Linked DNA regions of Homo sapiens: region 1 is linked to region 2. Evidence: fine-mapped expression QTL. A gene starts in region 2. The other region holds a variant in brackets. All regions are shown on one strand. Distances are between the middles of the regions.

Region 1 (4,398 bases), 92 kb after region 2:
TAAACTTGTTTTACTTAAAGAAAGAATTCTTCAGTCAACACAGGTTTTAAATAGTTTGCAATTCTAGGGTATTATGCGGGGACGAGGAGGCCCAAGAGTGTATTCAGTGTAATGAAGAAACTCATTATAACTTGCTGAGATCATTCAGATTTGCCTGTGATTATATTAGTTAGGCAGTGTCTGTTTTCCTCCCAGGGGTATAAACCTGGAAAATTACAACAAAAACAAAAGCAAAAACCAAACTCCTCCTTTCCTTAAATTTCCACTTCTCAAGTACAGTGTTTTATCTAACAAGATCTGCTGCTTAGCCACATCCTTGTTTGGCTTTCACTGTCTCTCTCCACCCTCTACTTTCCACCTTCATTTATTAACATTGTAAGGAAGCCTGGAGCATACATGTGTGGAATAGTCTCCATGGCAACTCAGCTTGGAACTAATAAGGTTATGGGAGAGCTTCCATCCCTGCACCTGCCAGTGTCACAAGCAGAAGCCATGTTCCTGTAGCAAAGATTGTACTCTACTGCTAGGCAGCTGTCCCCTTGAGCCACCCAGCCAGGCACATGGGATACAGAGAGTATATGGCTCAGCACGCACTAGTCACTACTATTAGAAAAGCTCAAAGCTGAGTCACTGGTGCCTTCTTCAGAAGGGATGAACAGCTCTCTCACTTGAATGCCAGAAAATTATCTTGCAAAGCAGACCTATCTGATAGACATATTTGCATCAGAGTAGGGCTTGTTATCAGCAAGGCTGTAAGGTGCCCTCCCCAGTCTTCTGCAGGATAATCCAGGGAGCCAGATTATAGAGAAAGGGCAGCCCTCTGTTCCTACTCATCTGGCTCAGTATTGAGGATCTCCATTCACCCTTTCCTACCCCTGTTCACCTATCCATCCCCTGTAGTTCCTGACCTGCAAAGCTATTATGTGGTCATAGTTGTTATTTATTTCCATGCTAATCCTGGGCACTGTTTCTCTGAAAAATGGAGATTTAAGAATAAGGCTGTCAGGATACATCTCAGAAGTATTAGGCGTTGTATTAGTGTGGCTGCTATAACCACTTGCCACAAATTCAGTGGCTTAAAACAACACCAATTTATGACTTTACACTTCTGGAGGTCAGAAGTCTAAAATAGGTCTCAGTGGGCTCATATCAAGTGTCAGGAGGGCTGTGTTCCTTCTAGAGGCTCCAAAGGATGATCTGTTTTCTTGCTTGTGGCCCCTTCCTCCATTTTCAAAACCAGCAGTGGCTGGTTGAGTCTTTCTCACACTGCATTTGCTGATACTCTTCTCCCTCCTTCTTCTTCAGTTAAGAGCCCTTATGATTACATTAGTTTCACCAAGATAATTCAGGATAATCTTATTTTACAGTCAGCTGATTAGCAACCTTACATCTACTACTTTAGTTTCTTTTTGCCATGTAACATAACACATTCACAGGATCCAGGGATTAGGACACAGATGTCTTGTGGGAGAGGGAACATTATTCTGCCTACCACATGCATACATCAGAAACCATGGTTGAAACACAGGAAACATGACAGTTCCTCAAGGCATACAATTATGACCTTGTTGGGTTAACCTTCACTATCCAAATTTTAATCACACAAACTTTTCCTTAATCTCACAGTAACTTGGCAGTTTCAGTGTAAGAAATAATGATGTTAATTGTGCTACATTCAAAGTGTGCTGGTCCTGAAGTTGATCTGTGAACTCTTGTTTTCAGCTGCTTGATGGCAAAGAAATAAAGCGACTGAATGTTCAGTGGCTCCGAGCACACCTGGGCATCGTGTCCCAGGAGCCCATCCTGTTTGACTGCAGCATTGCTGAGAACATTGCCTATGGAGACAACAGCCGGGTGGTGTCACAGGAAGAGAT[T/C]GTGAGGGCAGCAAAGGAGGCCAACATACATGCCTTCATCGAGTCACTGCCTAATGTAAGTCTCTCTTCAAATAAACAGCCTGGGAGCATGTGGCAGCCTCTCTGGCCTATAGTTTGATTTATAAGGGGCTGGTCTCCCAGAAGTGAAGAGAAATTAGCAACCAAATCACACCCTTACCTGTATACAAGCATCTGGCCACACTTCCTGTTTGGGTTAGTTGTTACCTTTACCTGATCACCTGACCCTCCTTGTGAGGAAGGGATGAAAGTGTTCGACCACTTCAGGTTTAGGAGAGAGGAACATTTCTGGGATAGGAGAACTGGAACAATTGTCTTGATCCAAAGCTATAGGCTTGAGGCTCCACCTTTGTCAGCCTTAGGGGTAAGTACAATATCTGGAAAGCCTTTCACTTTAAGTCCAAGTACAGAGTCTGGGTCCCCACCTGCACATGCTGCTTCTGGCCTGCTGAGGAAGTAGGCATGACTGTCTCTCCCCATGTCTCTCCCCTATTTCTCTTCCTTCTTCCTCCTTGCAGCTCTCTCCCAAGCCTCAAAACTCACTGTGGAGTCAGTCCAGTCCAGAGGGCTGAACCCATGCCAGAAAGAGTGCTCTCTCTGAATAAGGGTTGAACCATTAAAGTGACCATGGTATCATGTAATCTCTCATCGTCATACATTTCATGGGCCCCAAACTTTGTTTACAGTGAATGGTTGAAATCTTTTCTAGGGCTCCCTGGGCTGTGGTCCTATGGGTGTCCTCTGAATTCCTCCTAGGAAGTTGGATAAATGGAACCTCTCATCCTCTCTCAAGCCCTCTTAGGTCCTGTGTATTAGTTTTTGTGTTTTGTTTTGTTTTGGAATACAAGTTGACTATTCCTTGTCCAAAATACTTGGGACCAGAAGTGTTTTGGATTTTGGAATATTTGCATATACATAATTCACTTATATTTCATGTATACCTTATACACATAGCCAGAAGGCAATTTTATACAAATTTTTAATAACTTTGAGCATGAAACAAAGTTTTGACTGTGTTTTGACTGTGACCTGTCACATGAGATCATGTGTGAAATTTTCCACTTGTGGCATCATGTTGGTGCTCAAAAAGTTTCAGAATTTCAGATTTTGAATTTTTTGGATTATGGATGCTCAACCTGTATTAAAAGTCCAAAATTAGATTTTTTCCAACCTTTATTTTAGACTTAGGGGGTACATGTACAGGTTTATTATACCTGGGTATATTGCATGATGCTGAGGTTTCAGGGTACAAATGATCCTGTCACCTAGGTACTGAGCACAGAACCCAATAGGTAGTTTTTCAACACTTACCCCCCTTCCCTCCCTACACTAATAGTCCTCAGTTTCTATTGTTGCCACTTTTCATCTATGAGTACCTGATGTTTAGCTGCCACTTATAAGTGAGAACATGCAGTATTTGGCTTTCTGTTCCTGCATTACTTTGCTTGGGATAATGGCCTCCAGCTGCATCCATGTTGCTGCAAAAGTTAGGTCCTATATTTTGAAGTGCTTCTCAACCTAGGTAATCTACCTCACCCATTATCACCAGTTATGCTCTTTATTCTAAGGAAGTGCCCCCTAAAACAAAGCTCAGGAGCCTCAACCCGGCGGGGAAGACAGTTTCCTCACGAGGCAGGCAAGCAACACCAGGTGGCTCTCTTTCCCAAGATTCCCTTCTTCCATAGGCTCTTCTTTGGATAACTGCTGACACCAATCTCATTAAGTCCCAGGGAGGTGGCCTTGTCTCCCACTCTCCTTTCACAGTCTAGCCCAACTAGATAATTGACCCTTCTCCAGGCTCAAACATTTAAAACAGAAAGCTCCAATCCCCTTTACTGATGAGAGGATAGTGGTTCTCAAGTATAGACACGGATCAGCATCACCTGGGAACCTGTTAGGACTGCAGATCCAGCAATCCACGTTTTAAGAGCCCAGGTAATACTGTTGCAGGCTCAAATTGGGGAACCACTGGGCTAGGGGTTAATAAAACACAAACACAGAGAGTAACTATTATCTATCTTTTTAAATATACTTTGCCTCTCTGGCATTTGTCTACCACAGGACAAATCCTGGTCTCTAATCTGTCACACAGAACACACCTGTAGACACCATAATTCTCTTCCTCAGTGTCTAGACCAGGAGAGAAAAGGTAAAACCCCTAAGTCCTATTACCTAAGGATCCACTTCTCCTAAGTGATTAATACTAGGATTTACCTCACCCTGTAGGTGGCTGGTTTAGCTACCTCCTTGTAAGACTGCCGCACTGCCTTTATCTGCCTCAACAGGATCAGTACTATATCAAGAGTGCAACTAGTAAACCCTCCACTCACATGAGATACACTTCAGTGCTCCTGCCTTCTGAGACAGCCACAGCTCTGGGGTAGAGCCAGTCCCAAGCATCTGCCAAAACCTCATCTGGCGTCTTCTCCCTCTATTTACAGGGGGAAACCCAGGGCTGAGTGCCACAAAACTAGGGTTGCCAGATATAGCAAATAAAAATAGGCAA
Region 2 (4,398 bases):
CTTGACAGAAGTGGTGGTGGCACAAATGCAAGACTGGTGTCTTTCAAGAAACCAAGGACTGTTGAAAGTAGCAAGAGCTAGTTTGTTTTAGGTCCATCATGTTTTATATTCACACTTTCATGTCAGTGGAGCAAAGAAATGGAATACAATATAATAGAATGGTAGAATCTTATTTTTAAAATCTGTGTTATTCTGATCTTTAACTTACTTATATCTTTGATAGAGATCTTTACCTGATGCTCAAGATTGTAGAAATAGTATAATCAACATAACAGTATAGCACTGTATTTATATCCTGCACTGTTTAGGGAGGGTTTAAGGCCATTCAAAAGGATACATAAAATACAACAAGATTACATAAATGAAAGGTGAGATAAAGCAACAAAGCAAAACAAAAGTGAAAACAGAGATCATAGGCACAAATAAGATTAAAAACGCATGTAATGAAGATGAAAGCTTTTACATTTACCCCAGATGGACCACAGGGTTGTTGTTAAGCCTTTAAACAGTGAACAATGCTGTACACTTGCATATGCAATTAGAACATGTGGAAAAAATAGTGGCCTGTTAGAAGCCTAATTAACAATTTGTGAAAAAAAAAAAAAAAAAAAAAAAAAGAGGCCGAGCTGTAGCTCACGCCTGTAATCCCTGCACTTTGGGAGGCCGAGGCGGGCGGATCACGAGGTCAGGAGATCAAGACCATCCTGGCTAACACAGTGAAACCCAGTCTCTACGAAAAATACAAAAAATTAGCCGGGCGTGGTGGCGGGAGCCTGTAGTCCCAGCTACCTGGGAGGCTGAGGCAGGAGAATGGTGTGAACCCGGGAGGCGGAGCTTGCAGTGAGCCGAGATCCTGCCACTGCACTCCAGCCTGGGCGACAAAGCAAGACTCCGTCTCAAAAAAGAAAAAAGAAAGAAAAACAAAAGAAAACTTCATTGTATTGTAAGGCCAAGAACAAAATATATCAAGATAAGGAAAATTTGTAGTCAAGAATAGAAAAAAATTATGGCTTTGAAGTATGAGTTATTTAAAGAAAGTGGAAACATCCTCAGACTATGCAGTAAAAAACAAAGTGATTTTCTTCTTCTAAACTTATGCAATAAACTGATAGGTAATATGTGAAAGTCATAGAATGTAGACTAGAGGATACAACAAACCTATTTCCTCTATGTTCATAAGAAGTAAGAAAAGCTCTGATGTGAGTTAGCATTGCTTTACAATTTTGAATTGTGCAGATTGCACGTACTTTTCCTCAGTTTGAAGTAAATAGTGGACAGGAAAAAATATTAAATGTTGGCAGTAAATATGGAAGGAAATTACAACTAATGTAATATGCTAAAACATGCTATGTTTATTTTACTAATTTGAATTAAAATGTAAGAATTTAAAATGCCCTGGAAAAACACGGGCATTGATCTGACGTCTGAAGTTTTAAAATATTACACACTTTGAAATAGCATTTGTACCTTGAAATACCTGTCTCTATATATTTTTTAAAACTTCCTTTTTCTTTCATTCCATTTATCATCAAATAAAGGATGAACAGATGTAACTCAGAAACTGTCAAGCATGCTGAAGAAAGACCACTGCAGAAAAATTTCTCCTAGCCTTTTCAAAGGTGTTAGGAAGCAGAAAGGTGATACAGAATTGGAGAGGTCGGAGTTTTTGTATTAACTGTATTAAATGCGAATCCCGAGAAAATTTCCCTTAACTACGTCCTGTAGTTATATGGATATGAAGACTTATGTGAACTTTGAAAGACGTGTCTACATAAGTTGAAATGTCCCCAATGATTCAGCTGATGCGCGTTTCTCTACTTGCCCTTTCTAGAGAGGTGCAACGGAAGCCAGAACATTCCTCCTGGAAATTCAACCTGTTTCGCAGTTTCTCGAGGAATCAGCATTCAGTCAATCCGGGCCGGGAGCAGTCATCTGTGGTGAGGCTGATTGGCTGGGCAGGAACAGCGCCGGGGCGTGGGCTGAGCACAGCCGCTTCGCTCTCTTTGCCACAGGAAGCCTGAGCTCATTCGAGTAGCGGCTCTTCCAAGCTCAAAGAAGCAGAGGCCGCTGTTCGTTTCCTTTAGGTCTTTCCACTAAAGTCGGAGTATCTTCTTCCAAAATTTCACGTCTTGGTGGCCGTTCCAAGGAGCGCGAGGTAGGGGCACGCAAAGCTGGGAGCTACTATGGGACAGTTCCCAAGTGTCAGGCTTTCAGATTTCCTGAACTTGGTCTTCACGGGAGAAGGGCTTCTTGAGGCGTGGATAGTGTGAAGTCCTCTGGCAAGTCCATGGGGACCAAGTGGGGTTAGATCTAGACTCAGGAGCTCCTGGAGCAGCGCCCAAACCGTAGTGGCACTGGACCATGTTGCCCGGAGCGCGCACAGCCCGCGCGGTGCGGGGACCTGCTCTCTGAGCCCGCGGGCGGTGGGTGGGAGGAAGCATCGTCCGCGGCGACTGGAACCGGGAGGGAGAATCGCACTGGCGGCGGGCAAAGTCCAGAACGCGCTGCCAGACCCCCAACTCTGCCTTCGTGGAGATGCTGGAGACCCCGCGCACAGGAAAGCCCCTGCAGTGCCCATCGCGGCCAGAGCAGCTGGGGCATCAACGGCGGGCGCTCCCTCTTACTGCTCTCTGGCTTCGACGGGGGACTAGAGGTTAGTCTCACCTCCAGCGCGCCTGAGGCTCATGCATTTGGCTAATGAGCTGCGGTTTCTCTTCAGGTCGGAATGGATCTTGAAGGGGACCGCAATGGAGGAGCAAAGAAGAAGAACTTTTTTAAACTGAACAATAAAAGGTAACTAGCTTGTTTCATTTTCATAGTTTACATAGTTGCGAGATTTGAGTAATTTATTTCTAGCCTCCAGCTCTGAAATAAATGACATGTTGTTGTTTTTAATTATTTTTAAGAAACGCAAGCTAGCCTTTGGAATCAATATCCCTGCTTAGAGCAGAAGTTTGTTGGCTGAGTGGAGCACAGCATATGCATTTTCCCTGTCTTTTTTGTTCTTTCTTTTAATGATACATAATATTTTACATATTTATGAAATGGGGTACATGGAAGCGTTTTTTACATGCCCGGAATGTGTAATGATCAAGTCCGGGTATTTGAAGGATACATCACCTTAGGTATATTTCATTTCTATGTGTTGATAACATTTTAAGTCTTCTAGCTACTTTGAAATATACAATATATTGCTAACTGTAGTCACCCTCGTCTGCTATCGAACATTGGAACTTATTTGTCCTATCCAACCGTTCTTAGTCATTCACCAACCTCTTTTCATTTCACCTTTTTACCCTTCCCGGCCTCTTTCCCTTAGTCTTGGTGTGCCTCTTTCTCAGCTTTCCTGCCCCAGACAGGCGGATGCTCATATGTGTTTCTGTCTTATGAACTTCTGCTTTTCAAGTGGTGTTGGTCGCCCACACGTGAGCCATATGCTGCTGGTGATCTGCTCTGTGGTCCAGGCTCTTGCTTCCGGTAAATGGCTATGTAAACATCGCGTTTGTGGCCTGGCTGATGAGACAGAAGGTCAAAAGTACATTTAGGTTGTTAACTGGCAATAAATATCTGTATATAATATTGGTAATGTAATCATATAGGGAAAATAATTATTTAAAGTAAATTTTGATCATGGTGCTCTGCCTTTATAGAATATTTAAAACTTCACTAAATAGATTCATTGTTAGTAGTAAATTGTAAAATAGACTAGTAAGTTTAATAATATTAGAAACTGTAATGTAAATTATAAGATAAATTAGTAAACACATTAATATTATAAGAAACCAAGCTTTTCAGTGTAAGAGAAAAAATACAAATGTGGAAATCAAATACATTTTTAAAAATAATGTTAAGTTTGAATTAGAAATTTCAATATGAATTCATAATCTTTTAATAGTTCATTTTCAGTCCACTGAAAGGGACAGTAACAATGAGCACTGTTAGTACCAGATCTGGGTTTCTAAATACCATTCCTCCCTAAAAGAAATGAACCCCTCAGTAGCTAATTTCAGCCAGGTCTGGGACAGGAAAAATAGAAAGTGAGCCTGGAGTATCTTGTGGTACCTGAAAATAAGGAAGTGGAGTTTAATGGAGTAGTCGAAAGCACACTGAAGCTGTCTGGAAGATGCTTCCAATGGCCAACTCTGGGACAATTTGAGCATCAAAGAACATCGTAACTGTAACTGATTTTGAGATACTGAATGCTACTGCTGAATGCTTAATATTCTGAGAGAAGGGAAACTGAAAGAAAGTGTGAGAGGTAGAGAAAATAAAGCAATGATCTTTAGAGAAAAATTCCAGCTATCATTTTGGAACTTCCATTGTTATAATAGATTCAGGCAAGGATTGTCAATGAACTCTAAACTATCAGAAAAATGTTGTATCTAAGAATTTTCTTCA

Alleles and levels. Positions count from the first base shown, and alleles are read on the strand shown. Sizes are in standard deviations (SD) of each study's normalised expression.
With allele C in place of T in region 1, the expression in testis of the gene that starts at base 2,026 in region 2 is lower (moderate effect, 0.69 SD a copy in GTEx).

The links. PIP is the estimated chance that this variant, and not a neighbour inherited with it, causes the effect.
Region 1: its variant is the best candidate, but not a certain one, in a credible set for the expression of ABCB1 in testis (GTEx, PIP 0.86).

What each region holds. Positions count from the first base shown.
Region 1 is chr7:87,506,806-87,511,203 of GRCh38, reverse strand. ABCB1 (ATP binding cassette subfamily B member 1) reads left to right here. Exons shown (of 28, transcript NM_001348946.2): 26 at 1,723-1,929. Among named protein-coding and RNA genes, the nearest start is that of ABCB4, 33 kb to the right of the region's middle. The variant T/C (reference allele first, on the strand shown) is at 1,875.
Region 2 is chr7:87,598,512-87,602,909 of GRCh38, reverse strand. It overlaps ABCB1 (ATP binding cassette subfamily B member 1), which reads left to right and starts at 2,026. Exons shown (of 28, transcript NM_001348946.2): 1 at 2,026-2,155; 2 at 2,720-2,793. The coding sequence starts at 2,726. RefSeq lists enhancers at 3,125-3,514, 2,724-3,923.